3 separate regions of the Homo sapiens genome follow, and regions 2 and 3 are each linked to region 1. The links come from fine-mapping of genetic effects on gene expression. A gene starts in region 1. Each other region holds a variant in brackets. All regions are shown on one strand. Distances are from middle to middle.

Region 1 (10,294 bases):
GTCCTTGGGCAAGTTATTTAACATCCCTAAGTCTCAGTTTCCTTATCTGTAAGATGGGAATGGTATCATAATACCTACTTCATAGGATTGTCATAAATGGGATACAAAATGGGAAGGGCTTCACACATAATTCTTCAGTAAATGTTAGCTATCACTGTTATAACAAAGGTTGTTTCGGCGGTAGCACTGACTGCCAGTCCAAGACAGAATCCTCTCGATCGGATGCTTGTGTTGGAAAACACAACTCTTTAGGACAAAGGCCATTTTCAATGTGAACGGTGTCTTTACCAGCAGCTGACAGAAGGATTACTCTTCAAATGGAGGCTACTCTAAGTAGATTTGCATTTGGGACGCCCCCAAATTAACTTGCTCCCTCTGGTTGCCTCCTGCTAACCACCAGCCCAGTAGCACTCGTGTGGAGAGAGTGGAACATGCTGCTTGTGGTCTGAGACAGAAATGTAACCACAGTGCAAAGAAAATTAACAACGTGGCACAACCTAAGCACCCTTTTCATGGGACAGGGATGTACAAGACTTAGAGAGATGCTAGCTCAGAGCGGTCACTTTTCTTCTTAGCAGGTCCCTCAGCTAATACCAGTCATCCCATCAAATTTCTTTTTTCTTACATGTTTAACTTAAATTTTTCTTGGAATTAAAAACATTTAGGATTTTTTAAAATATTGATTTAAGTTATTAAAAGCTATGTTCCTGGTTGCATGAAGAAAGAAATCCCAGTAAGTTTAAATATATATATTTTAATAAATGTGTGTATATACAGATATATTTAAATAAAAAAATTTAAGTAAAAAATATAAAGATATATTTAAATAAAAATATACATTTAAGTAAAAAACAAATATATATTTAAATAAAAATGTAAATATATATTTAAATAAAAATGTAAATATATTTAAATAAAAATATAAAGATATATTTAAATAAATATATTTACATATTTATTAAATTTATTAAATTACATAATTTAATGAATAATTTATTAAATATCAAATATTTTGAATAACATATTTAAGTAAATAAATATTGTTTACTTAAATATATACATATATATAAAAAATATATATATTTTTTGAGACGGAGTCTCGCTCTGTCGCCCAGGCTGTAGTGCAGTGGCGTGATCTCGGCTCACTGCAAGCTCCGCCTCCCGGGTTCACACCATTCTCCTGCCTCAGCCTCCCAAGTAGCTGGGACTACAGGCGCCTGCCACCACTCCCAGCTAATTTTTTGTATTTTTAGTAGAGACGGGGTTTCACCGTGTTAGCCAGGATGGTCTCGATCTCCTGACCTTGTGATCTGCCCACCTCAGCCTCCCAAAGTGCTGGGATTACAGGCGTGAGCCACCGCGCCCAAGCAATCCAGCTTTTGTTGATTTCAATTTTAGGCTTTATTACCAAGTTGACCTGTTAGATGACAATGGGTGCTTCCCACATGCACCCACCTTGAGGACAAGGACAACAGTAGCCCATCTGGGAGGAGGCAAGGAGGTTGGGCCTGAGGATCAGAGTGAGAAACCCTCACAGAGCTGGGTAGGAAAACCAGCAACTCCTTTCTTATGGGTAGATTCTGCCAACCCTTTTACTTCTTTTACAGGACTTGGAGATTATTTCTGATTACTTAAGAAATGTTATTTTTTTTAATCCTAAGAAACATTTTAGAGTGAAAATTGGTCTAATGTCTCAGCCCATTCCAGGTGCTTTAAGCTCAGTGTAGTGTGGCATGTGTGAGGCCACGGGTGTGAGTATAATAACCGCTGTCGCTGGGACAGAGATGCTGTCCAAACTTAAATCATCCATCTTCTTTCCTTTTCTTTCCTTTTCTTTTCTTCTTTTTCTTTTCTTTCTTTTCTTTTCTTTTCTTCTTTTCTTTTTCTTTCTTTTTTCTTTTTTTTTGAGATGGAATTTCACTCTTGTCACCCAAGCTGGAGTGCAATGGCGTGATCTCAGCTCACTGCAACCTCTCCCTCCCAGGTTCAAGCGATTCTCCTGCCTCAGCCTCCCGAGTAGCTGGGATTACAGGCAAGCGCCACCAAGCCTGGCTAATTTTTGTATTTTTAGTAGAGATGGGGTTTCACCATGTTGGCCAGTCTGGTCTCGAACTCCTAACCTCAAGTCCAGGAGTCCCAAAATGCTGGGATTACAGGCATGAGCCACCACACCTAGCCCATCCATCTTATTTTCTTTTTTTTTTTTTTTTTTTTGAGATGGAGTCTCGCTCTGTCACCCAGGCTGGAGTGCAGTGGCACGGTATCGGCTCACTGTGAGCTCCGCCTCCCGGGTTCACGCCATTCTCCCTCCTCAGCCTCCCAAGTAGCTGGGACTACAGGCGCCCGCCACCACGCCCAGCTAATTTTTTGTATTTTTAGTAGAGACGGGGTTTCACCATTCACAGGATGGTCTCGATCTCCTGACCTCGTGATCCACCCGCCTTGGCCTCCCAAAGTGCTGGGATTACAGGCATGAGCCACTGCACCTGGCCCATCCATCTTATTTTCTTTTCTTCTCCTCTTCCTCCTTCTTTAGTGAAATCAACTTATATGAAATGAAAATGCAAACTACCAAACCTGCCTTTTCCCATACAAAACAACAAAATTTGATGATTAAATGAACTAAAGTAGTGAATTTCTTCTTGCTCAATTAATTACAAGGCTTTGACTTAAAACAATTTTTTATATTTTCATAATAAATTTCAGAGGAGAGATTTCTTATGTACTTCTAATGTGACTCTACACATATATTTAGAGAAACCTCAAGTTGTCCATTGCAGTTTTTTTCACTCTCAGTAACTGGCCAGGTTGTGGCCTAAGCCTTCGTTAGCCCTGGTTGATATTTAGTCCCGGCTAAATTTGTTTGCTGCTCATCCCTAGGAGTAAGCCACATGTTTGTAGAATGGATGTTTCATCTTGTAGGAAATACCTGTGAATATGCCAATATCCCAGAGTGGATGAAATGGGCAATGGGGAGCCCTGCTCCACTTTACAAAAAGAAAGGAAAAGAAAAGATCCCTTCGCCGATATATATTGATTTGCTGCAGAAAATGCAATGGGGCATGGGAATGAATAGTCACTCTTGCCCTGTTTCTATCCTGTGCAGGTCCCACCACGTTGAGGTGGGTAGAGATGCTTACACACACACACATACAGGCCTGGAGCCAAAGTCAGGGCCGGCTTTAATGAACTGTACACATATGTTGTGGGCAGCCGCTGATTTAATATGTACAACCATGGTGTGTGCACACACCTGGATAGGCACACTGCTCTGGGAATCACACAGGGTCTCCTGAACAATGATGCTATTGTAATATTTCTTTTTGTTTTATTTGTCCAAAGTCAAACATTCACTCTGTCAGATCACCAGTGTCTTATAAGCCTGGTGTTGGCCCACACTGCTGCAGGATTGGGACAAAGAGACGATGTTACAGTCTGGTTTCTATGGCAACAGAGGAGGGGTAATGAAAACTGAAATGTTGGAAACACCCATTCTAACCATTGTGACATAATTCAGGTTATTACAAGGATGTAACTACCAAAGAAGCAGAAGTGTCATTACCTTGCAGCTCATGTCGACAAAAAGCTACACTGCACATTTCTCTTAGGCTGCTAAGAGGAAGGAAACACAAAACACACACACACACACACACACACACACACACACACACACACACACACACACACAGAGGCCTCGTTTTCTGCATGTAAAATGTGTGTGTTCTTTAAAAGCCAGTGGTTGGCTGGTTTTCCGGACATGATGTGGTTGAAGCTGTCATCGTAATGGAAATTCATTGCTGTAGCTATGGTAAATCGAGTTTTCTGCCTGTGCTGAATGCATTAGTCTAATGAGATGTTTGCAGCTGGAGCGCAGGGCTGCTGGAGACTAACTGTGAGCTACTAACACGGGTGGAAGATAGCTTTTGCAATACTCGGTTTGCATGTGCTGAAAGTCATCTGTCTTCTGAGTCAACACTCCCGACCTGGTAAACAACCTGCTCAGGGCTCTGGTGAACAAGCTGTAGGTAAGGGAGATGCACAATTGGAGGCGTGCCGTTGACACGGGATCTTTCTCTTGTAACTGTCAGCATGACAGGTTACCTGTTTCAGTTTTTTCTGGGTTGCATGCCTACCTCTATGGCAACGCACAAGAGTGTCCTGCACTAAAACCACTGAGTCCAGTAGGTAAACTTTAGTTCCTCATATGCAAAGTACAGCATTTAATTTATTAACCAGATCTCAGAGGGGAAAATGTAACATTGAATTATATAGTTTATAAATTTGGGCTATATACATGTTCATTACTCTTTAACTCTGCATTTAAATACCTAGAAAGTTATTTTTTTCCAAATGTGAACTCAAGTAACCGGTTAGTTATTTTTTCCCTTCACGATAATTTTGCTTTGTTTTGCTTTTTAATTTTAAAAAAATTGTACTATGTCTTGGGATAAAAATATTTACCTAAAATTTGGTTATTAAAATTGGTATGTTATGAACATGTAAAAGTGTTTTTTTTCCCATTTAATTTTATTTCAAATATCCCAGGTAGAATATTTCACATGTCTTTGTGCTGGTTTTTCCTAATTTATGAGGCATAAATAAGAATAATATTTACTGCTAGTTTCTGGTTTTAATTCGTTTTTTGGGAAAAAAACTGGTGACTATGGAGTATTAGCGGCAGTTTTCCCAAGCTCAAAATCACCTCCTTCCCAGGTGGAGCACTGTGACTTGAACCAGCTTCCACGTGCTCCTCCCAAAGCATGAGGGGTCCTCTCCAGGTTGATTGCTGGCTGGACAGGAGCGGTGGATGAGGCCAGGGTGCAGGCTGCTGAGCTGTTTTGCTGAGTTGAGGTGCTTGAGTCAAAGTTCTTTCCACTATCTGTGATCGTGAACGAGAGGTGTCTCCTCGTGTTGTCTCTAGATTCCATGACGGTACTCATGAGGGTTAGACAATCAGTGGCTTTCTGAGAAAGTGGTTTTTTACTGATCTCAGACACTACAGTACTTGAGAAAGTAATCCAGGCACTTCAGAATCAGGGTATTTGTTATATGCTGTTTTTCTTTCTTTTCAACCAGAGGAACCATTTTTGAAGAATGAGGGATATAGCTGCTTTTTTTCTCCACTTTTTTTTTTTTAAAGCAAAATAGAATATCTGGAGTGAAAGCATAAAAATAACTACAAAGGAATTCTTAGTGTGTTAAACTATCTGGGGGGTATAATATTTGTGTGGAGCATTTTTTGTGTTGCTTGGTAGAACTAGTCTGATAAAATGAGGGGCTGTTTGAGCAACAGCAGCTGGGTGAAGATTACCTAGAAAATCGGTACTGCGTGATCGTCTAAACTCAAAAGGTTAATGTAGAATCTTCAGTTTTAGGGAAATTGGTGGCTTCACAAACTATAACTTTTAAACAGGCTTTTTGACAGAATTTTTAAAAAATATGAATGTGTTTTCTTTAGCTCTTTAAATTGTGTACGTAGATGAGCTCTGAAATATTTTGGTAAATTCATCAGTTTGCTTCATTTGTGGAATTATAACAAAAGTGCAAAGCCCACAAAAATCCAGTTCTTTCATGTATAACATGTTTACATTTCTTCCCTGTGTCCCCAAAATTACTTTTATTTTGCTGCAAAAAAAAAAAAAGAAAAGAAAAAAAGAAAAGAGTAAATGAACGGTAATAGAAAGACAAGAAAACAATAAGCGAAACGAGTAAGTTGCTTTTCATCATTTCTTTGCTTTTGGTGGTGTGTTTTCGAGGCGAGGGAAATCAGCAGAAGCAGTTTCACTTTCTGGTTCTTGACTCCTGGGGGTGAGGGTGAAAGGCTGTCTCCTCTAGCAAGCAGCAGGTAAGCTAAGCAGCTCAGCCCACAGAAAACAAGCCAGACCCAAATACTGTCACTTGCTGCAAGAACTTTTATAATGAGAGTTCAAAACAATATTGACTTTAAAAAAATACTCAGTAACACTTTCCTATTAAAAAATTCAAGCACTACCCCAAAGTACAAAGATAGACTTTTTTAATTTTTAAAATTTGAAATGATGAGAAAATCATCTCTGCTGTTTATGTATTTTTAATCTCAATTTTGGATCTCAAATACTTCAATACTTTTAAGGAAACATAACTGAAGTTCCCTGAAATCATAACAAGGAATGCTCGGAGAGGAATAACCTTTCTGGGAGTCTGGGGGCTTAAATGTTAGAGTGCTTCGTAGGTCTGTTTACAATTTTGTGTGGCCTGAGGACACATCACACATGTGTCCACACATCCTTTATGACACGCACCTTAAAGAACTTTTGGTCCAGGCAGAGGTGGTGGCTGGAGCTTGAAAGCCCTCACAGGGGCCCTGTTAGGGATCTGCAGGACAATTTTCCTCCCCAAGTCCCTGCCCTCGGAAACCTCAATATCACATGGGTAGATGCCAGGGAGCCGGGATGTGCCCATCCCACTCCACAAGTCCTGAAGAGCGTGGCAGGTGACACTACCCCTCATTGGGCTGGGAGCCTTAGGATACCAAGCATCTCCAGTGTCATTCTTCCCCTGAGCCCTCAGATTTTATGTGGGGATGGAATGGGAAAGAAGGGAAAGGAGATGAGAAAAGACCCTCTTTTAATCTGATTATCATGGAGCGTAAAATCTTGTCTAACATTTTGTGGATGAAGTTTGTGAAAGCAGTTGCCTTTGGTGTGATCACACAAGCTTCTTTCTTTTGGTGGGCACATCTGATGTTTCTAAGAAGGAACTTTTAAACAATGCCTCCCTAGACATCTTATTTCTTAATTCTGCCATCTCTCAAAAGGCTAGTTTTAGATTTACACATTTTTTAATGTTTTCATTGCCTTCAAAAGCAGACAGGTGAGGAGAGAAGAGGGGGATTAAATCAGCCCCTGGGAGAGACATTAAACGGCTTGGTACAGATATCATATAACAGAAGCCACCAGGGTATCTAGTAAATTACTCTAAATTTTAATTAATGAGTCACAAAAGCCACACCACAAGCTTTAAAAATTACCCTTTTATCAATAAGGTGATAATTAACTTTCTCTGGAATTAGCAGTTCTCTCAGCCCCGGGGCAGTACACAGCCTAGTAAGTTCTCTGGAATGCTGCCAATTTTTAACAATTGGTCTTTTGGCAAACCTACTGGATTTTAATTCAAACATCTATTGTGACATTTTCCAACGTGGTCCACAGACCATTAGGATCACCCAAATCGTGGTAAAATTTCTGAGGTCAAAAGAGCAGCTTGGAATGTTTGAATCGCATTTGAATATGTCACTTTCTCCTTCTTCTTCTTTTTTTTCTTTTCTACCTTTCCCCACCCCAAACTTCTGCATTTGCAAGAGCGCAGTGCTCCAGTCTGCTGTAAATCTCTACTAGAGTCTCTGCTGTAAATCGCTGTGGGGAACCCTGCATTTGTTGATACGCCCATACCAAGTCCGAACGCCCTGGCTGCCAGCCCGTGGGTTCTAAGCGTTTTTCATTGTTGCACTCGTCTTGGTTTCAATTCTGGCAAGGGCTCACTCCTTCATGTTTTTGCAAACTCTCACCCGTGGTTTGTCAAATGCTGATCTTTAGTTTGAGACTTGAAGAAGTGCTTTGGGCAAGAGGGCCATTTTGGACATGCTTACAGAGGCTTGGAATTTAGCTTCCTCTGATCTGCATATATTAATGTCTGAAGAGGCACAGACAGGAGCATTCAGCATTGCAGAGCAGCCTGCCCCACAACAGCCCTTCTCAGACATGCATACGCACACGCACACACAAACACACACCCCTCCCAGTGCGGCTGGTCACTGGTGGGTGGCATTCAGGGACAGCCTCAGGAGGGACACTGCTATTTGGGTATAGCATCTGGAGGGCAAGTGGTGATGGATGCAGATCATCCCTTCAAAAGTCAGCCTCCTCTCTTCCCTCTGGATCTTTCAAATGTTAGCATTGCTGGGCTCCTGCTTCTCTCAGCCAAGAGACGTGGCCAGGGCTGAATACCGGTGACAAGGCTTCCTGCTGGGTTAAGCAGGCAGTTCTGACACAGACAAGAACATCCCTGCCTTCAGGCGGATGGGGTGGAGACCAGCAGCAAGCTGCAATTGTGCATTCTGGAATAAATCAGCACTTAGCAATCAGGAGAAGCCCTTTGCTGCCGCGGAGGAGATAAAACACCTCTTACTTCTTGGGATGATTATTTCTTGGGCTACTATTTTAGGACAGAAAGGAATTTATTACCCAGTGGCAGTTCTCACTTTGCATTAAGCTGAAAAGTCATTCCACTCAGTCCATTTGACACTCTGAAGTAATGGGAGTAGATTTTGATATCCACATTGCATATTTCCCGGGGTGACTATTACTATACCAGTTTTACTAGTTGTGTTTTAGTCCAGTGATAAGAAACCATATAAACTCCTCTTACTCTGCCACTAACTTAGACACATGCTACCTAAATTTTCATTTGTGGGGAGGCAGATGTGCTTTTTTTTTTTTTTTTTTTGGCAGTTGCATTTTTTGATCAGATAAATGCAACCCACCATTGCTGATTTTCAAGAATGATTGCACATTCCTGCAGCCAGGCTGTCTTAGCCTTTTGAGAAATTGGCTGGGCTGAGGAGGTCTTACTTTCTCCAGAAAACATGCAAGACAGAAGCAGAGGAGTGGAGCAGGCTGTTATGAGAAAATTAGTATGCCAGGAAAAAATAGTGTCAACACTGTGCTTTGAAAGGTGGTGATGTTGTCTGCTTAGCCCCGCGATGGTGACTCAACTTTGGGGAGCTGAATATTTGGTAACCAAAGCCCTTGCCCTTTTCCTCTCCCTGTGCTGATCATTATAGAGAAGCCCTCATTGTTTCAAAACAGAAACATATGGCCTGAAAGTAATCCTAAAGACATGTGCAGGCTCCCATAAAGATGAATACTCAACTTGGCTGGGTCTAAATCCAGCCAGGGGAAAGTGGTATGGAGCAAAGAGGCAGTAGGATAAAACAAAGAGAAGGGAGCCTGTTCCTTCTCCCTTCCAACCGAGCACTAGACCTTCACTCTCCCTCTTGTACCCCCGGTGCAGTTCAGAAAGGATTCAGTAATAGCTATGAGTACCATACAGCTGTCAGCTCATAGACCATAGGGGCCTTTTCTTTTGAACTGAAGAAAATATTTTCTCTTCTCCCGTCCTCTTTTGTCCACAGGTCATCCTGGGACATCATTGCTCTGATGAGAAAACCAGGGTTGAACACTAAGGAGTATGTTTTTCCCTGGTGTCTAGAGCCAGGGCCTGCCCCTCTCACCAGGCCCATGAAACACTTGGAGCTGCCATGTCTAAGGCCCTGCCTTAGATGCAGACTTCAAGTCGGCCAGGGGCTGGCCTCAGGATTTTAATCCTGTTTTGACAAGCAGTCTGCCTTGGTGAATGAGGAAAGGAAGAACCGAAGAGAAAAACACAAGGCGAAAGCCTATTCCAGGGCATTCATGCTTTTGGTTTTGGAGACAGGATTTGGAGGTCATGTAACTTAATTCCTTTGGGCCTAACCATTTCTGAGTGATTATAGGACTGTAAGAATCATTCTCATTCTTTGTGGCCTTCCAAAGAAGAGGCTGACCTCTTTCCTTCACAGTTCTTTAGGATTTAGTGCCCTCATTATTGGGAAATTTTGGTGATGTCAAGGCTTTATCAAACAATTAGCTATTAAGACATGCTGTTGATTCCAAAGAGAATAATCACAAATGTTGCACAATGCATTGGGTTTATTGATCAGTAATGAATTCCACTGGGGGAATAGATTTCTGTTATTTTTTCAGTCGTGAGGAATCTGTGGTCATTTGTTGGATTCAAGCAAGATTTGGTTCATGCTGTTGCCACTGTGGCCTGTGCTGGGGGAGTTTGCCTTGAGACTTAGGAGTCAACCCAGCAGCCATCTGCGCACTGCCCCTTTTATTGGGAATTTTCCCTTTCAGATGCCAAAGGTGCCCGAGCATATTCGACTATATCACTTTTAAGACCTCATTTGCAAAAAAACTTCAAGTGGAAAGCTGTAGATAGCTTTAAATTTGGGTATGCAAATTACAAAGCATAGAAACAGTGGGGGGAAGAAGCTGGTTCTAATGCTCGAAATCACCATCCACGGTGTGAAAATATAGCTCTTGTTTTGAGTGTCTTAACATAATTAGTACTAGAGACTTAACATAAATAAAGAGGGCAAACAGCATGGTGGGGTTGTGTTGGTGCCTGATGTGGAAATGGTTAATTGGTCCCACAGTGAGAAACTGTACAACCGTGTGTTGCTTTAATGAGACCAGGTGAGTATAAGCTC
Region 2 (10,294 bases), 110 kb after region 1:
TTCAACAGGCTCAATGTTGAGCTTTAAAAGTATAGGACTGTAATCCCAGCACTTTGGGAGGCCGAGGCAGATGGATCACTTGAGGTCAGGAGTTTGAGACCAGCCTGGCCAACATGGTGAAACCCCATCTCTACTAAAAATACAAAAATTAGCCGGGTATGGTGCTTCCAGCTACTCGGGAGTCTGAGGCAAGAGAATCGCTTCAACCAGAGAGGTGGAGGTTGCAGTGAGCCGAGATCGCACCACTGCACTCCAGCCTGGGTGACAGACTTATTGATTAAAACTCCATCTCAAAAAAAAAAAAAAAAAGTATGATAAGTCCTGGTTTACTTAAGAGGCGCTGATGATGAGGTTGGCAGACTTTCTAAGTCCTCTCCTCCCTCTGCACTTTAGCTTGGCTCTTTAGCTCTCCTGTGAAGGGTTTGGGGAGGATTGTGGGGCTATCCAGATCAGCACTTGCATCCCTGCTTGTTAGCCGTGGCGGAGGATGGCTGCCCTCATGTGTTTGTATCAGGACTAAAGGTGTGGGGAGAAAGCACTGTGGCACCTGGGCCACCACCCAGGCCACAGTTGTCTCTCCTGACTCTGGGACATTGTGACTCTTGCTTGATCTCTCCCAGGAGTCCTGAGCCAGGTGAGGGGGGCTGTGCTGGTGGGTGAGCAAGAGCAGGGAGTACAGGGAGATTCTGAGAAGCCAGCAGAGACTGTGAGGGCAGAGCCACTGCAGAAGAAAGTCTTTGATCTTACTCTTTTTTTTTTTCTTTTTTTGAGATGGAGTTTTGCTCTGCAACCTCTGCCTCCCGGGTTCAAGCGATTCTCCTGCCTCAGCCTCCTGAGTAGCTGGGATTACAGGTGCCTGCCACCACATCCGGCTAATTTTTTGTATTTTTAGTAGAGATGGAGTTTCATCATGTTGGCCAGGCTGGTCTTGAACTCCAGACCTCAGGTGATCCACCTGCCTTGGCCTCCCAAAGTTCAGGGATTACAGACGGGAGCCACTGCACCTGGCCTGATTTGGGCTTATTAAGTCATCAATGGCCAAAATATCAATTTTCCTCTAAGCACCGAGGAGCACACCTCCTAATTCCTATTACAATATGCTCCTGTGGGCAAAGCAGCTCTCAGCCTGCTGACAGGTATGCTATTTGGAATTATGTTGTGAGGTTCATTTCTCCTCTCTGCATGCTCACAAATACTGGCTACTGTGTTGGCAGGGCAGGGTTTGCCAAGACGGAGGGTCTGATAGCTTCCTGAACTGCTCTCTGATATCTGCTTCTCTGTACTGCCTTATTGCTTAGTCAAGACAGTCACCACCGAAGAGTACCTGGTGAACCCTGTGGGCATGAACCGCTACAGCGTGGACACCTCCGCCTCCACCTTTAACCACAGGGGCTCCTTGCACCCCTCCTCCTCGCTGTACTGCAAGAGGCAGAACTCTGGAGACAGCCACCTTGGGGGTGGTCCTGCTGCCACCGCTGGTGGTCCCCGCACTAGCCCCATGTCTTCTGGTGGCCCCTCGGCACCTGGGCTGAGGCCTCCAGCCTCCAGCCCCAAGAGAAACACGACCTCTCTTGAAGGAAACAGATGTGGTAATGTAATGCATGCATCAGCTTCCCACTGACTTAACATCCCTTGCCCTTGCGCGGGGAGCACAGCATCTGGGGAAGGGGGAGTGTGGCTGTTTAAACGTGGGACTGCTGGGAGATCAGAAATTTCCACAAGTCCTTTCATGGATCTTGAGGTTCTCAAAAACAGCCAAACTCAACCTTTGATAAGCAAAGAAAATCGTGTATTAGGGCAGGCTAGGCCACAGGATACGTAGACTCCAAAATGTACACAGGCTCAAATACCATAGAAATTTTTGTTCGAGAGCCAAAGGTGAATGTTCCTGATTCATGGATGCATCTCAATATAGGGACATAGGCTCCATCTATTTTGTGGCTCTGCCACCCTCTACAGCCTTCATGCCCCATGCATTAGGGAATAGAAAGGGAAAGAAGGTGTGGAGAAGACACAGGTGCTTCCCTGCAATCTGAAAGTGATGCTCATCACTTCCACTCACATCTCATTGGCAAAAGCTGGTCATTTTGCCACACTTAACCATAAGGGACTCTGGAAGCTGTAGGTTAGCTCTGCCCAGGAGAAAGGAGAACCAGACCTTGGTAAAGAATTGTCTCTTGCATAGGAAGTGTCACCTTCAGGATACAAATACATGAGCAGAGGCAGAGTTAGGCAAAATTCCCCCAATGCTGGTTGTAATGCCACTTCTGTCTCATCCACTAAAGAAAGCTTGTTGGAATGCAGTCTACAAAAGCGCTATAAGGGCTAAAGGATTATAGTAATAGCTTGAAGGCCCTTCTGATTGATGTTTTAAAAAATCATTTTCAAGCTTCAGTATTTTGATAGTGCCTAAAGGCCATAGAGTATAGTGGATAATCACTGGGACTAGAGCCAGACAGCCTGGGCTGAGATGCTGGATCTGCTGCTTCCTGCCTACCTTTTGCAAGTCTTAACTTACCTGTGCTTCAGTTTCCTCACCTATAAAATTGTGATAATAATAATGGCAGCACCTGCCTCATAGGATTGTTGGGAGGATTAAATGAGTTCATACATGCATTTAGTACAAGACCTAGGAGGTAACAAGAGCTCAATAAATGTTAGTAGTTACAGCATAGATCTTTTTAACACATCCCTTAACAGATCACAGCCCATCAGCTCCACAGCTGAGAACTGCTGAAGAAAGAAGGCCCCAGGCCAAGGAGTCTGGGAGTCTTCATCTTGCCACCCTGTAGCCCCTCAGTGGGCAGGCTCTGTCTTCTGTGGCAAGTCACATTTCTCCCCTGAGCCTAGGATCCTTCCACCAGTGACCCCAGCAAGCCGCACACGTGAGCTATTTTGTATGATTCAAGACCCTCCACACATTCTCTTCCAAGAGCCTCATCCAACCCAGATGAGCGTGGCCCTGACCAGCTTCCCCTGGCCAAGGATGGAGAGGTGAGAAGGGGCCCCTTGCCGGAGAGGCGTTCTGAGGGGTAGAGCGCAGATTCTCCCTCCACAGCAGCTCTTACCAAATGTAGAGATGCCCTGCAGGCCACTTTCCAACACTGTCACACAGGGCCATGAGCCAGGCAGATTAAGTGAGCAGAGCCCTATTTTCCAAAGGAGAGCAACATTGTTCCATTTGATTCCTAAGAACAAGAGAAAGGGACAAGATCTTTCACGAACCAACACTGTAAAGTAAACCAGGGGCAGCCTTGATTTCATAGGTTTGTCCCCAGTGTTAGCTTAATATCTGGCATGTGGTAGGTGTTCAATAAACATGCATCATGTCTGTGCCCTCACGGTGTCCCTTTGTCTTCTTGTCAAAACACTCATCCTTATGTCCCTCTTGAGTTTAAATGTCTTTCTCTCATCCTCTTCTCCTCAGCCCCATTCCCCTTTTCTCAGGGTGGTGATCACAGGACACCATGCTGATTGAATTGACTCATAATCCCAGAGTCCCACTTTTTAAAAAGGAGATATTTACTCTCTCTCCCACTCACGTTGGTGCAATCTCAGCCCTATGTCTTAAATGCAGGATTTCCAGCAGTAAGAGGGAGGCATGATTTGGTTGGAGAGAACTTCTATCACTCACTCAACAACAGTCTGCCCTGTTCAGTCCAACTGGTGACCCAGGGCCAGGGAATCCAGGGCTCTTCAGAGGGCTTCAGCATAGCTCCTGTCCCCCAGCCCCTCACACCTCCTTCCAGTTGAGCCCTAGGATGTCCTCCTGTCCTTCACTTTCATCCCCATACCGGCCCTTTGTTCTCCTGTGTATGAGTCTGTTCTGCTAATAAAGACATACCCGAAACTGGGTAATTTGTAAAGGAAAGACGCTTAATGGACTCACAGTTCCACATGGCTGGGGAGGCCTCACAATCATGGCAGAAGGCAAAGGGAAAGCAAAGGCACGTCTTACATGGTGACAGGTAAGAGGGCTTGTGCAAGGGAACTCCCCTTTATAAGACCATCAGATGTCGTGAGACTTACTGGCTACCACAGGAACAGAATGGGGGAACCAAACCCATGATTCAATTATCTCCAACTGGCTCCATCCTTGACACATGGGGATTATTACAATTCAAGGTGAGATTTGGGTGGGGACACAGAGCTAACTCATATCATCCTGGAATCAGGCCCTGACAGTCTGAGTAATCTTGCCAGACGACTGGCCGAGGGGCAGCCCAGACCCTTCCTCAGCCTCCAGCTCTGAGAAAGCCTCTCTGCTGGAGCCTGGTTGCACCCCAGGAGAGGCCCCCTAGCTCAGGCCCTTCTGCCTGTCAGGATCTGGGATGAGATCAGAGACACGGAGTCCACCTGTGCCTGCTGCCTTTCATCCCAAGAACATCAATACCTGAACCCTGAATCCTGGCTGTCTTTTTAATAACTTAGAAGTATTAGAACCAGCCAGGCACGATGGTTCATGCCTGCAATCCCACCACTTTGGGAGGCCAAGGCGGGTGGATCACTTGAGGTCAGGAGTTTGAGACCAGCCTGACCAACATGGTGAAACCCCGTCTCTACTAAAAATACAAAGATTAGCTGGGTGTCGTGATGCACGCCTGTAATACCAGCTACTTGAGAGGCTGAGGCAAGAGAATCGCTTGAACCCGGGAGGTGGAGGTTGCAGTGAGCAGAGATTGCGCCACTGCACTCCAGCCTGGGCAACAAAGCTAGACTCTGTCTCAAAAAATAAATAAATAAAAATAAATATTAGAGAGAACTTTGCCTGAGACCCTGAAATCCAGTTGTCCATAATCAGCAGGACCCCCACCACGGGACTGTGGGATGTTTAAAATCGCAAAGCCACCTAACCTCTTTGGAGAAAAGCTGCTATGTGATGTATCAGTTGAAGTTCACTGTTGAGCCTTTGTGATACACTGAAGAAAAATGAAATTATTCATCCTTTGTAGGTCTGTTAACACTTTAATTCTCCGAAGATTCCTTTTTTTTTTTTTTTTTGAGACAGAGTCTCGCTCTGTCACCCAGGCTGCAAGCTCTGCCTCTTGGGTTCATGCCATTCTCCTGCCTCAGCCTCCTGAGTAGCTGGGACTACAGGTGCC[T/C]GCCACCACACCTGGCTTTTTTTTTTTTTTTTTTTTTTTTTTTTTTGTATTTTTAGTAGAGACGGGGTTTCACAGTGTTAGCCAGGATGGTCTCGATCTCCTGACCTCGTGATCTGCCTGCCTCGGCCTCCCAAAGTGCTGGGACCACAGGCGTGAGCCACCCCGCCCAGCCGAAAGATTCCTTTTAACCAGTGCCTTCCTCAGGGTGCTAAATAAAACCGCAGGTACCAGAAACAGCCAGTCAGCCATGCACATTCTCAGCAGTGAGACAGAGGAAGTGGGTGGGGAGAAGACGGAAGGAAGGATAGCACCAGTGTCTCTGAAAGAGGTTTCCGTTTCTGCTTACATTTCATTGACCAAAATGTAGTCACATGGCCACTTGCTGCAAGGGATGCTGGGAAATGTGGTTTTCATTCCTAGCAACCATGATTCCAGATGGAAGTTAGGGCTGCTATTACAGAGGAAGAAGTGCAAAGTAACGCTGAGTAGGCAATGGGAAGTCTGATCAGAAATGCTCACTCCCTCCTTTTTCCTCCCATGGCACTTTGTTTCCTCATCTATAGTTCTTACTCTATCCTAGAGAAAGGAACAGACCCTCAGCTTTGTGAAGCCTCTTATTCATATTTGAACCCCCCACAGCCCTGGCAAAGGGGGGCTTGAGGCCTGTATCAGACTGTTATTTATTGAACACCTACACTCAAGGGGGCCAGACAGTTTCCGACTTATTATAAGTTATATGTTTAGGATTTAATATTTATAAAAAGGTATTGGTATATTTGATTTAAAGATAAAGAAAAAGAGGTTCAAGAGAAGGTAAATCAAGTGTTAAGCCAGGATCTGACTTCAGTGGGCTCCAAAGCCTGTCTTTCAAAACAACCCCAGGGGTTTTCAAATCATGCCTGATGGCTTTCAAGGTTCTAAGAGATGGAGAAGATGGAACAAGAGCAGACAGGACTCCAGGTGCCCTCCCTCTCTTTAAGCAGGGCCTTTTCACATTTGCAGAGTGGGGTTCTATATGTGCTTTGCTTAAACAAAATTTGCACAACTAAAAATGTTTGGAAACCATGGAGATAAAAACCATGCTGACTTGAGTGGCAGGATGTTAAAGTGGGAGAGAAACCGCCAGCGTCCTCACCCATTTCTCACCTAGCTGTCAGCCTAGTGCCTGCTGTGGGTCCCCCCACACCCCACCCTCCCACCCAAATGACTGTTCAATATTGCTCTGAAGTTCCATCCCAAGTAAAAAGCAGTTATCATCAAAAAAACCATACCTCTTTAAGGGAGTTTGACCCAAGTCATAAACCATGGAAGAGACTTAGAAATGGCATTTTCCCCATGGTACTAATCAAAATGGTTTAAAACCACAAAAGCCAGAAAACTGCATGAGGCTGCAGGCAGAAGGGTGGGTATTGATGACTTGACAAACTCCTCAGCCTTCTCTCTCTGGCGGTACTTACCTTTAGCTTCCTGCAGTTGTGATATATCACGTCTGTCTCCGCTGCCAGTGGGCTCCAAGGGGATGTGTTCACAGGGCACATTTTCCTGGTGTCTGCTGATGCTCTGGTGAAAGTTTGAGAGCTCTTCCTTGTCTCTCATCCAAGATATAATCACCAAGAGCTATAAAGAGGTTTTGGATAACAAAAGCTTCCTGACTTGGGCATTTAACAAGACACACTGTAGAATTCCCAACCACAACTAGGTCCAAGATTCAGAATCAAGAAACGAAGTCAATCTGATATTGCTATTACAACCCAAATGCCTCCTGTGGTTGGATTTTTATTTGATAGGGCCTGGCATTGGGTGAGGGATGGAGACAATTTAGCTAGAAAAAGAAGAATGAGAACAGCATTGTATGTGAGGAGGTGAAGCGGACAAAAGCATGGCAAGAGCTGATTAATTAAAGAGTTTGTGTAGGGGCCAGACGCAGTGGCTCACACCTGTAATCCCAGCACTTTGAGAGGCAGAGGTGGGCGGATCATCTGAGGTCAGGAGTTCAAGACCAGCCCAGTCAATATGGTGAAACCCCGTCCCTACTAAAAATACAAAAATTAGCTGGGTGTGGCGGCACATGCCTGTAATCCCAGCTACTCGGGAGGCTGAGGCTCGAGAATCGCTTGAACCTGGGAGGTGGAGGTTGCACTGAGCCGAGATCATGCCACTGCACTGCAGCCTGGATGACAAAGCGGGACTTCATCTCAAAAAAAAAAAAAAATAAAGGGTTTGTGCAGGGACACCAGGGAAACCATGCTGGGAGGTTTGGGATCCATTTCAAGCAGATGGGGCTTTGCTCTGTAGTAACTGTAAACCAGACATTTCTGAACAGGGGAGTGAGCTGGTGGCCCTGGGATTTAGGAAAACAAATCTACTGGCCATTTATGGAATGACATCATCATAATAAGAAGAACAGCAACTACCTAATGAGTAATCCTGTTTAATGCTTTACAACATTATGCCATTTAATCCTTGCAACAGCTCAACGAGGTGTTTTATAGAGCAGGCAGTTAAGACTCAGGTTTTGGTTGGTCCTAGCCAGCAGAGACTTCCTGGGCACAGTGTGCCAGGGGCTCTTCTCACATCTGAGGACAGAGCTGTGAACAAGATGGACACCGGCCCTGTTCTCTGAGGGTTTGCAACTCCAGGGAGACAAATGTCAACAAATTATTACACTAATTTCATTACAATTGTGATGATTGCTGTCAGGGAGAAGTGTGGATGCTGTGGGAGAATCAGATGGGGAGGGAGTGGCTGAGCCTACCCTTCGGAGTCTGGAAAGGCTTCCCAGAGAAGGGGCAGTGGAGCTGGCTGGAATAAGCAGGAGGAAAGACAACCAGGGAGGGTCAGTAGGGAGGAGGGATGGCTGGAGGCTTCCCAGCAGAGGTAACAGTGCTTGCTAGGAGGTCACAGTGTCTTCTGGTGGCCAAGAAGGAATCTCGCTCAGCTCAGCTTGACTTCAAGCCCATGGTCTCTCCTTGTTTCTAGAGACATGCTCTCTCCTCACACAGGCAGGCCAGCTGGTCTCAAATAATTGAAAAGAAAAATCTGATTAAACTCTAAGGATTGAGTGGGCTCTCTTCCCTCTCATCTCTCTCACCACATGGCATCTTGAAAACTCTGGATAGAGTGAGTGATGCTTGCCTATAATCCCAGCTACTCGGGAGGCTGAGGCAGGAGAATCACTTGAACCTGGGAGGCGGAGGTTGCAGTGAGCCGAGATCACCCCACTGCACTCCAGCCTGGGCAACAGATAGAAATAATGAAAAACAGCACTGTTTCAAGCCATGTGATTTTGCCATAATCGTGGGCTAATCTGGGCATGTCACACATTTGATATGGCATTGTATCTAGAAAGGATGCATCTAGTGGGAGCAGGTCACTTGGAGATGCTGAGAACAGATCTCCCTCCCCTTCCCCTTGCCAGCCCCGGTCCTCCCAACCCAGTTCCAGGTGCCAGAAACCAAGAGGGCCTGGGCAGCTCACAGGCAGCCTGAGGACACAGGGGTCCCTGTCGGAGACAATGACCTTCCTGTCTTTAAGATTCTTATGGTCAGGCTCCAGCCCTGAGACACATTCTCTTGATTCTTAAAATATTCTTAAGAAGCAGCAAATAATATTCACAATTTATAGATGAAGACAATGAGGTCCGTAGAGAATGATCAGAGCCCAGGAGGGACGGGAAGCCTGGCTGTGGCTGCACTCGGTGTGTTTTGCATGTGGACACACTGATGCAGCCTTCAGCTGTGGGAGGAAGTGACTCCCTTAGTGGGAACAGCCTGAGGTGGGAGGGGTTACACAGTGTCATAAGGGGCTGGCAGGGGCTTAGAGATCAAGCCCTTTTATTTTACAACAGAGAAGCAGAGAGTCGATCACATGGCTGGTGGGTGGCAGGGGTTTCTGACTCCCAGCTCACTGCTAATTCCGCTCCTCCACATGACTCTGTTGTTAGCTAAAGAGTTTCTCCTGAATTATGAATGAGTGAAAGGAAATTATGTACGTATGGATGTGCTCATGGGCATGTGTAAGGCAGAGGGAGATTCACAGAGAGTGTGCAAGTACCTGTGCTGTGAGAATCAGGATTGCTTTGAAACACTGACTCATAGTCATCCTAGCTCTGGTAAATGTGAGTTCAGCTTTAGAAACAAGCATATTTAATCCATTCATAACTAGGTTTCACTTTTCACATGCCTCTGGCAGGGAATGACAAGACCAAGCACGATGTCCTCATTGGAGAACTCTGCCTGCTCACAAAGGTGTCTGGCCAGTGCTTCTTGGCATGCTCTGTCTGCTTAGGAGCAAGACTTTTCCACATCCATCATGTCTTACTGTTGATCTATCACATCTGCCTGCTGCAGCTGCACCAGGCTCCACCCATCTGTCTTCCTGACACCTTCGCTGCAGCTGGAGAGGGAGTGGCTAGTGTATTTATTATTTTTGTGAGCACAGACCACTGTGAGGCTCTGCAAACCTGCCACTGGAAAGCTCCATTTTTCTTCCTTTCTAAAGCGAATCTATGTGCTTTGGATCAGGAGCAGCTCCCGAGGTGTGACTTAGGCTGCCTGCTGCCCTCTGTCTTGTATGACTAAAAGGCCCCCTAAGAAACACGCCCGAGCCAGGCCCCTGCTGCCTCTGCTCCATCCTGGAAAAGTGAAAAGTGCCCACAGCAAGCCCTAGGTACCAGGAACAGAGCCCACTTTGCCATCTCAGTTATCTCTTTCCCTCCACAGCAATCGTCCTGAGAGCCTCCTCCTTAAAGACAAACCAGCCACCTGGCTCAGCCCTTCAACACTGTAGTTGAAGGGAAAGTGTTTCCCTGACCTAGCTCAAAGGACTCTAGGTTCCTGTGAATGATGCTGTTAATTGGTCTGGGTTTTCCCCCCTTCCTGTCAAATGCAGGAAATTAGATTTGACCTCTGCTCTGATCACTCTAAAATTATTCTTGGCACTAAAGACTTCCAGCCTTTGTAATCAGAGCATCTATTTTCACCCTGATTAACGCCAATGTTCTGATGGGGCAGGATCCAAAGGCAATGTGATTTCCGTGATTCCTCGTCCCCATGTTGAGTGCAGATGTCTTTAAATGGAGTGAAATCATCTTTAATAAGTGTGGATCGGCATTCAGATGGCTCCAGGGTGCATTAACAGATTCCCAGAAAAATGCCCCGTGCCAAACCACCTTATGGGACCCTTCCAGGTCC
Region 3 (10,294 bases), 92 kb after region 1:
TAGCAGCAGGGAGGAAACCGAGAGCAGGTCTTCTCATCCCCGGCCCTTTGCTTTTCCTCTCCAAGTTTTTCCTTATTCCAAGTTTTTCTGCTGTCTGTAAGGCCCGTTATCCAGCACTGGCTGCGTGGGGTGTGCATCCCTGTTTCTCAGCTCAGAGGGCTGACTGCACACAATAGATGTCCACAAGGGGCTTGTGGTACACCTGTGTTGCTTCTAGCAAAGATGTGAAAGAACAGAACAAACCCCAGCCCTCATTTAGCAAAATCAAGGAGGAAACTACACTCTAGGAAGATCAATTCTCTTCTCCTCCTGGGTTTCCTGCCTTTCCCACACGGGATGTTTTCCCCGTGTCCTTGTGTTCTGGCTACATCGGGGCTGGATGACAACCACGGGGCAGGCACAGCCCATCATTCCAGCTGCCAGGGAACTTCCTCATTTCTACAAAACCCACACAAGTAGCCTACTCCACCAGACAGTGGCAGAGTTTGATCTAGTGTTTGAATTAATATGTGGAATGATGGGTAGAAAAAGAAAAGAAATAAAGGGGGAGTTCTTGATTAATGGGTATAGAGTTTCAGTTTTACAAGACGAGTTATGGAGATAGATGCTGATGATGGTTATGCAACATTTTGAATGTATTTAATATCACTGAGCTGTATGCTTAGAAATGGTAAAGATGATAATTTTTTTTTTTTTTTTTGAGACAAGGTCTTGCTCCATCATCTAGGCTGGAGTGCAGTGGCGTGATCTCGGCTCACAGCAACCTCCACCTCCAGGGTTCAAGTGATTCTCCTGCCTTAGCCTCCCAAGTAGCTGGGATTACAGGAGCCTGCCACCATGCCTGGCTAATTTTTGTATTTTTAATAGAGATGGAGTTTTGCCATGTTGGTCAGGGTGGTCTCGAACTCCTCAGCTCAAGTAATTCACCTGCCTCAGCCTCCCAAAGTGCTGGGATTACAGGAGTGAGCCACTGTGTCGGGCCATGACTTTATGTGATATGTGTTTTACCACAATAAAAAAAACTTGAAGAAAAAAAAACAGAACTGGAATCCCCCCGCCCTCAAAAACAGAAAGAAAGGAAAGGAATGAAGAGAGGTGCGTTCCTGCAGATGCCTTTGCACCTGCTTGTGTCCCAGTGCAGGCCACATGACTGGAACATTGTGGAGCTGTGTTTGTCACAGCCAAGGGCCACATGGACAAATGAGCTGTCTCATTCTCAAGCTGAGCATTGGAAAGGAGGTCATTTGGAAGGAGAATAAACTATTGACAAGCTCTGGTCTTAAGAATCCTTGCAGAAGGTTTTGATGAAAAGGTTGAAAAAGAGGCTGAGCTCGGTGGCTCACGCCTGTAATCCCAGCACTTTGGGAGGCCGAGGTGGGTGGACTGCTTGAGGCCAGGAGTTTGAAACCAGCCTGGCCAACATGGTGAAACCGTGTCTCTACTAAAAATACAAAACTTAGCCAGGTGTGGTGGTGGATGCCTGTAATCACAGTTACTCGGGAGGCTGAGGGAGGAGAATTTCTTGAACCCAGGAGGTGGAGGTTGCTGTGAGCTGAGATTGTGCCACTGCATTCCAGCCTAGGTGACAGAGCATGATTCCTTCTCAAAAACCACAACAATAACAACAACAACAACAAAAAGAAACTAAAAAGTGTCCATCAGTTTTGTAGAAAATACAAAAGCCTTCATATTTTTCCTGACACTTAGGGCCATAGAGGCCAAGCTAGAACCCTTACACCATGGAATAGGGAGTGTTCTCCAGGGTAGGAGTCCTCATCCTAATTCTCCCCATGTGCCTATGTAAATTCATTTAGGAAAAGCTTTATATTTTCAGTGATATCTTTCATTAAATTATGATATCTGTACATATTTTAAAATATTGAACTAAAAGGGAAAAATGTAATCTCTTTTTTAAAGAAGGTGCCTCCAGAGAAAAGCCTGCATTTCGTAGAATTTAAAATGGATTCTCTATTATGTCCAGCAGTTGATTGGATCCCTTTGCATTGTAAGGCTCAGGTTCTCTCTCATGTCCTGTAGATACCGAGGAAGTTATTTACTCCATAACTATTAACCAATGAATGAATGTTCCAATTAAGTTGTTTTAATCGCCCAAGGTATCTTCAATATGAACTAGAGTAATATTGAGTCACGTTGACCCCTTTGATAAAATTTTGGTAGAAAGTAACTGTATTCAAACAAACAAACAAAAGAAGTGAACACTCTTCTTGTCTAAATCACAATTTATTTTGTGGATTAAAGATGCCAGCACCTGAGACTTGAGGAGTAGAATGATGCTGGTGGTAAACCCCTTGCAGGCTTTCTACTGTTTGGGGGTGTGGAGGAGATAAAAAGCCTGAAAAAAAGAGGCCAAATGGACTCCTTCTTCCTAGAAGGCTGACCCCAGGAATCCTCTGAAAGACACCCCTACCTCTACCCTATGCCCACTCCTCAAATAACAAAATCTACTGGAAATCTCCTGTGTTCCATGAGGCGAACAGTCCCTCATGTGGCGCCCCCACTCCTCGATTCTCCGTGAGCCATTAGAGCTGGCCAGATGGCCGGGGGTCTCCCAGCCTCTCTATCAAATAGTTGTGTCTGTGTCCACTGCAGAAGATGTTCTGTTTCTGATGAGCCTGTCCAAAGAGGCTCCTGCCTCTGACAGAAGAGTAGGTCCGGGAGATGGGCCAGGCATCTAAGTAGATCCAAGGGGTTGGAAACCAAGTTCTCTGATTATACCTCAGAACAGTGGAAGCACAAGGACTGGTGGAAACAAAGGGACAGGGTATGTGAGATGCAGCCATTCGAGGCCTCCAGGACCTGCACAGGTTGTATTAGAGACCCCTTCTGGTTATTCCCCTGGACCACAACCCTGAGCCCCTGTGGCGGACCCTAAGGTACTGCTATCTGCAGGCTACTCACACCATTATCTGTTGTCCATGCTTGAGAACTAGGGTTAGAATGGCAAACCATGCCAAGAGGAGCTGAAGCAGCTTAGGAAACCAGTAGGCTTCTAAGATGAACTTCATGAACTCTCTCCTAATAGTGGTGCTTTCTGTGTTTCATTCATAAGCAACAAACCCTTTGCTGAAAAAAACTACAACAAACAAACATAAACTCCCTGGCAGAGAAGTGGGCAGATACTCTGTACCAGATCTATCCTAGCTACTGCTGAGTTAATAATGACAACTTCCAATCTGGACATGCAGAATCAAGAGGAATGAAACGGCTTCCTTTCTTCTGTCCACAATAGTTATCTTTTGCTGTGTCATAAATTACCCCCAACACTTAGGGGCTTAAAATAACATTTAGGGTCTCACAGCTTCTGTGGGTCAGGGGACCAGGTGCAGCCACAGGCCTTCTGGTTCTGAATCTCTCACAAGGCTGCATCTCAAACCTCAACTAGGGCAGGACCCACTTTTCCAGCTTTTTCACATGGTTGTCAGCAGGACTGAGTTTCCAATGAGCTGTTGGTTTGTTGCCAGATGGGTCCCTTTGCAGAGCATCTCACAGCACAGCAACTTGCTCCACCAGAGTGAGCAATGCTAGGAGTGCTGTGAACCTCTCTCAAAGTCGAGATGTCCATTTAGAAAGGAAACTTACAAGGCGTCCTCTATTCCAGGAACTTCAGCATTTTCCTGATTAAGGACCACTTTTAATTTCCCCAAGGTTCTATGAAAGACCAAAAAATTGTGGGGGCTGTGGAGGAAACAGCGTGACCACAGGATGTCCCACCCACTTCGCCTCCCCCAGCTCTCGGGAATTCTCATAAGCTTGGCGTGGAGGTTTGGCAAAGCTGCGAGATCATATGGAGGGTGGTATGGAACCTGCTCTCCTCCCGAGAGCACAGAAAGGCCATTCATTATCCCAAACAGATGACTTTGGTCAAAAATGCCTTTGGTCAAAATTTCCAAAGGAGGAAATCAACCCCTAGGCTTAGAACAAAGTCTTAGGCAAACCAGAAACATCTGAGAGGATGTAAGAAGTTCAGGTGTCAGGCATTAAAATTATGGTCGGTTGCTGTGCATCTCATTAGGGGAGAAAAAATAGAAATGTACTTAAATGGACCAGAGGGGAGTCATAAGGTTGATTCTCAGGGCTGAGTGATCTGAACTGCAGAGACAACCTTAGAGAGAAAATCCATACTGGCCAGAGACCAAGTTAATGGAAAATTTAATTGAAGCAAATGAAATGCTCAGCCTCATAGGTAGTATGGCCCTGTGCCCTTTGAACCAGAAAGGCTGGGCCAGGAGGCCACAGAGGGCCCTAAGGGAAAACTCCCTTATCTGCAAGAACAAGGGGCGGGACTGAGTTTGAGAAAAGAAAATCTGCAAACCTCCA[C/T]AGGAGCCTCAGTGAAAGGCTGCATGCAGGGGAGGAAACCTTCAGGTTTTGGTCACCAGGAAGTCCGTTAGAGATTCACAGCAGAAGGCCCCTCTGCATCCCACAGCACCAAGCACGTGCTGGAAACCGGCGGTCCCCCAGAGGACAGTGGGAGAGGCTGCCGGGTGGCAGAGACACAACCACCAAGGTAGGCACCGAAGCACCTGTGTCTGGGCTCTGAGTAAAAGAGGTGCAGCTGGCACGAGCACCTGCTACTGCTTCCTGCGCCTTCTCCCTCCTGCCCCTCTCCTCGCAGGTCTCCTTTTCCTGTACTATCTAGGTGATGGCACCTGGCTAAGCAAAGAGGGGTAGCTGCTCCACAGCTCTACAAATCTGCGAACTGCACTCCTGCCTTTTCTAATCTGGGTTTCAGGGCTAGGAATCTCTGATGTTGCCATCTCTGTCAGCAAGCCGAACCAAACTGTTCACACACGGAGGCCACAGGACACTGACCATTGCCTGGGCAGGGTGTGGGGGTCGGCAGGGCTGGGCAGACCGGCAAAGGGGTCAGGCAATCAATCCTGAGCAAGGCCAGGGCTCCCAGTCTGGAGGAAGGTGGTCGTGCTGATTGTGGAAAGGGCTCACTCTGCAGCTGCTCCCTCAACTGGGAAGACTGATGCGGGAAGTGGGGGGTGAGAGAGAGAGAGAAAGACAAACAGGCAGAACTGTTTAGAGATGACAAATAGTGTCTAAGACTAGATGTTGTGGTTCTTATTGCCTTAATAGGTATTATGTGAGAATAATTTTGCATAGTGGAATTGTTGTGTTTCAGGACTTCATTTGGTTAGTGAATCCAGGTAAAATGCCAGTTTAGTTTTTAAAAATAAAATCAATAGTCCGAGCCCACTGGGCTGTAAGCAGTTAAGCCTTGTGTCCTAAGTGAGGAGAGCTGACACTTGGTCAGGAGCATCTATAGTTTTATACATAAGGTCCGTTTTCCCCTCCCTGCCGCTCTGTTTTGGGACTTTCTCTTTCTCTCTCTGGCTCGTGGCTTTCTCCTGCACCTCTTCCTCTTTCTGCTTCTCTCTTTGGAGGTTCTCTACATTTCAGGGGCTCACACCTGACCCTCCAGGACTGTAGCAGAAATGGGCTGCACCTGGGTGTCCTGGAAGCCATGGATGCAGGGGCATTACCTAACCCTATCTCCACCCCAGGCTTCAGCAAGGATCAGGGAGCAAGGGAGGAATCCACACACTCTGGACTCAGAACCCTGAAGCTTTGATCCCTAAACCGGAAGGCTTAGGCACAGTTCAGGTTCATATGCAAACAGGTATGCCTTGAGGCTTGAGTGGGTTTACATGCTTCTAGAGTGTTCTTTGGCCTCACTAATAGGCAGGCTTTATACACAGTGGCTGGAGGGAACCATAGTCCACAAGCAGGTTTAGCGATGGTGAAAAAGGACCATCAGTCTGTCCTGAAAGCTCCCAGGACGCCAAACCTTGAAAATGTGGCAGATTTCTTTGATGGGGCCACGTGTGTGTTTTCCTTTCTATTTAAGCATGCTCTCGTGACTGTGCAAAAGGCAGATCATTCTTTTTTTCTGGAGGAAAAGATTTAATGATTCTTAAATGGCAACATTAGTCTCTTGGCTGGATGCAGAGGGTTACAGAAGTGAGTAAAAAGCCACTCATTTACCTTGCTTTGTTAAGCTGGCATTCTCCACTGCAATTAAATGGCCTCACACAGGCTGGGTTGGAGCCTCTTGTTGATGAGCAGTGCCAGGGTGACAAGACAGCTTCTTTCAGATGGAAAACGATTTTGTATGGACACAGGAGGAAATTTCGACCATGAGTGCCTTCGCCTGTGAGCCCTACGGTCTGCCGGGACTCTGTGTGCAGGAGTTAGATCCTCCAACAGGTCGGCTGGCCCCATCTGGTGTTTGCTCACCAGTCAGCCACAAAAGCGCTTGAAAAGTGGGGGTTCCCTCTCCAGATACAGACTTGGTCCTTTCTTTTTACTGACTTTAAATATTGGATTTAGGTAAGAAACATATGTCACAGTTCAATTAAATTCTTAAGCTCCTAGTAGTTCTGCATACCTAGAATTCATCTGCCTCATGTTGGATGTTGAGGTGACCTAACATGTTGGATAGTGTAAAGGGTACATGTCCAGCAGTCATGTGTTTTAACTGAAGCAAGAAGAATTGAGGCTAGATGTAAGGAGGAACTTTTAGGCAATGAGATTCATAGCACAATGGCCTCACTCTAAAGGAGATTGTAAAATCTCTTTGGGGAAGCTTTCAAATAAAAGACTCAGTTATCTACCATAGTTTCTTTTCTAGACAACACCCTGCCTGAAGAGATAGGTTGGGGCTAGCTCAATGCATTCCAAATATTAATTTACCACCTTCACAATTTCTACTGTGTCTGAGTAACACTTATAGAACTGTCTACTCAAGATATTCCTTTACATTAACTCATGTCTTTTAATCTTAGCCATTAGTCAGCTTAAGCAATCATACTGTATCAGTGAAATCATTTTGTTTGATGTGCTAATTATATGTCGTGGATGTACATTGAAATACATGACAATAAAAAAACATTTACTGGTTGTCGTAGGCTGAATCGTGTATGTTCAAATTCTCGGGTATCTGGAACCCTTTTTGGAAATGGGATCTTATTTGGAAATAGGATCTTTGCAGATGTAATCAAGTGAAAGGGAAGTCATACTGAATTAGGGCTCTAATCCCATGACTGGTGTCCTTAGAAGAAGAAGGAAATTTGGACACAGATCGTGACACACAGAGAAAACACCACAGTGGAGGCAGAGATTGGAGCGCTGTCTCCAGCCAAGGAACTCCAAAGATTGTTGGCCACCAGGGGATGCTAGAAAGAGGCCAGGAGGGATTCTCCCCTAGAGTCCTGAGAGGGAGCCTGGCCCTGTGGACACCTTGATTTCAGACTGGTAGGCTCCAGAACTATGGCAGAATAAATTTCTGTCGTTTTAAACCACCCGGTTTGTTAGTTTCTGCAATCCTAGGAAATGAATATACCCATGTGGTTCCCTGTCCCGCCAGTGGAAAGCATTTAACATTTGGGGAAATGCTGGGCTGGGTGCTTGTGAAGGTCCTTTTCCTTCCTGCCACCGAATGATGAGGGCCATCCATGCATCTGTCACTTTTACGCTTAGCTATGATGTATCAGAACCCCTCTATAGAAAAGTGCGGAAAATGCAGTTTCAATCGGGTTTGAACAGATCCATTTCATCAATTCTGGAAGCCACCACAGTGTGTGCATCTGAACGTGCTGTTCACTCGCGGCCACCCAGGAGCCACTTTACAGAGCCACATCTGGGGCTTGGTTGATTTGTCTTGACAGTTGTCCACCTGGGCAGACTTTGGAACCACCAGCACATCCTTTGCCTGGGTAGAAGGTATTGCTTGATGCCCTCCGAAGCCTATTTTCCCTTCTGATAATTCATTTGGATCACAGCCCAGAGGTTAGCTTTTATTACCTTTGATCTCACCCACGGGCATCAGTAGTTTCTTTCTTTATAATTATTTATTTATTTTTGAGACAGAGTTTTGCTCTTGTTGCCCAGGCTGAAGTGCAGTGATGCAACCTCAGCTCACTGCAACCTCCACCTCCTGGGTTCAAGCAATTCTCCTGCCTCAGCCTCCTGAGTAGCTGGGATTACAGGCGACTGCCTCCACGCTTGGCTAATTTTGTATTTTTAGTAGAGACGGGTTTCACCATGTTGGCCAGGCTGGTCTTGAACTCCCAACCTCAGGTGATCCGCCCACCTTCGCCTCCCAAAGTGCTGGGATTACAGGCATGAGCCACGGTGCCTGGCCGCTGTCAACAGTTTTGAAATCCATTCAGTGCATGTTCCCTTGTTCCCCATTCCCACACTTTGCGATAAGGGAATGATCTGCCATCTGCGTCTGTATTTTCCAACTATAGTGCCAGTCAGTGAATTATCTGCATTCTCTACCTTAGACTATCAGAACTATGTAGGCATATTTAATTTAGACTTAAAGTGTTCAATAAGCAGTGTACTGTTTTTGTTAAATCTTTTTTCATTGTTTATCACAAATCTACCTAAAGAATTTATATATAAGCTCTTTATAATATCAATTTTAATGAGTCTTCTGTGTAACGGCAGCCTTACAGCTAACATTGGCTCAAATGTTTACTCAATAAATATTTATCAAGCACTTCCTCTATTCCAGGCATCATGCCAGATACTGCATGTAGCTTCCTCACATATACCAAAGCACCTGACATGTGGGACACAAAAAGGATTGGTATCCCAGACTATGAGAACTTTCCAACAAAAGGAATGTAATGGCAGCCTTACTGCTTACTGGCTTTAGATCGTAGATAGTAGATAGTAGATGTTCAATACACGTGAGTTTTCCTTTCCCTCACTCCATTCAGAAAGCAGCCTAGTATATAGCTCCATAGCCAGGTCCTTTTTAGAATCTCCCTTCCGAAGGCTTCTGACCCAGAGGGAAGAGATGCAGCGAGGCCATCAAGGCAAAGATGTAGCGTTCCAGGGTCCTGAAGACATCTCGCAGCACTTCATTGGCTGCATAGCATTCGGCACAGAGCATGCAGACCCTTTGGCTGCTTAGGTTATGTGTGTCCTGGTGGCCAACGCCGTGTTTGTTACACTTGACTGCACGTAATTCTTGAGAATATGTTCATAGCCTCATCTGAAAAGCACTGAACTTCTGCAAACGCCTTTTAAAAAAAAACTTTATTGAGATATAATTCATATATCATACAATTCACCATTTAAGGTACCATTCAGTGACTTTTAGTATATAGATATGCGCAGCTATCAGCACAGTCAATTGTAGAATACTTTCATCACCTCAAAGAAACCTCCCACATACCCTTTAGCTATTACCCACCCCACACCCCAACCCCAATCCCTAAGCAACCACGAATCTACTTTTTGTCTGTATAGATTTGCCTTTCCTGGACATTTTATATAAAAAGAATCATTTGACATGTGGTCTCTTGTGGCTGGATTCTTTTACTTTGCATAATGTTTCAAGGATCATTCACACTGTAACAGATATCAGTACTTCATTCCTTTTTATGGACAAATAATATTTTGTTGTATGGATATAACAGATTCTTAAATTTTATTCATTCGTTGATAGCCACTTGAGTTTCTTCCACTTTTTAGCTATTATGAATAGGGCTGCTGTAAACATTCATGTACAGATTTTTATGTAGACATTTGTTTTCATTTCTTTTTAGTACATACCTAGGAGTATAATTGCTGGTTCTTATGGTAATTCTACTTTAAGCATTTGAGGAAGTACCAGGCTGTTTCCCAAAGTGGCTGCACCATTTTCTATTCCTACCAGCAGGGTGTGGGGGTTCTAATTTCTCTATGGTATCACCAACACTTGTTATCTGACTCTTTGATTATCACCTTCCTAGTGGGTGTGAAGTGGTGACTCATTGTGGTTTTGATTTGATTCGACTCATGATGTGGATCAGCTTTGATGTGCCTACTGGCCATTTGTATATCTTTTTAAAGAAATGTTTATTCAAGTCCTTTATCCATTTTAAAATCGGGTTGTCTTTTTATTGAGCTAGAATAATTCTTTTTTTTTTTTTTTTTTTTTTTGAGATGGAGTCTCGGTCTGTTGCCCGGGCTGGAGTGCAGTGGCACGATCTCAGCTCACTGCAAGCTCCACCTCCCGGGTTCACGCCATTCTCCTGCCTCAGCCTCCCGAGTAGCTGGGACTACAGGCACCTGCCACCATGCCCGGCTAATTTTTTGTATTTTTAGTAGAGATGGGGTTTCACCGTGTTAGCCAGGATGGTCTTGATCTCCTGACCTCATGATCCACCCGCCTCAGCCTCCCAAGGTGCTGGGATTACAGGCGTGAGCCACCGCGCCCAGCCCAGCTAGAATAACTCTTAATACAGTCTAGTCCCTTACACAGGTTGGT

What was found.
Region 2: its variant is fine-mapped to the expression of SCML4 in whole blood (INTERVAL, PIP 0.97).
Region 3: its variant is fine-mapped to the expression of SCML4 in whole blood (TOPMed, PIP above 0.99).

Annotation. Positions count from the first base shown.
Region 1 is chr6:107,817,857-107,828,150 of GRCh38, reverse strand. SCML4 (Scm polycomb group protein like 4) reads left to right here and starts at 3,838. Exons shown (of 8, transcript NM_198081.5): 1 at 3,838-4,025. RefSeq lists an enhancer at 5,686-5,755.
Region 2 is chr6:107,711,998-107,722,291 of GRCh38, reverse strand. It overlaps SCML4 (Scm polycomb group protein like 4), which reads left to right. Exons shown (of 8, transcript NM_198081.5): 6 at 1,299-1,589. Among named protein-coding and RNA genes, the nearest start is that of SCML4, 110 kb to the left of the region's middle. RefSeq lists silencers at 5,367-5,516, 8,783-8,892. The variant T/C (reference allele first, on the strand shown) is at 5,103.
Region 3 is chr6:107,726,205-107,736,498 of GRCh38, reverse strand. All of the region lies in intron 5 of SCML4 (Scm polycomb group protein like 4), which reads left to right. Among named protein-coding and RNA genes, the nearest start is that of SCML4, 93 kb to the left of the region's middle. The variant C/T (reference allele first, on the strand shown) is at 4,339.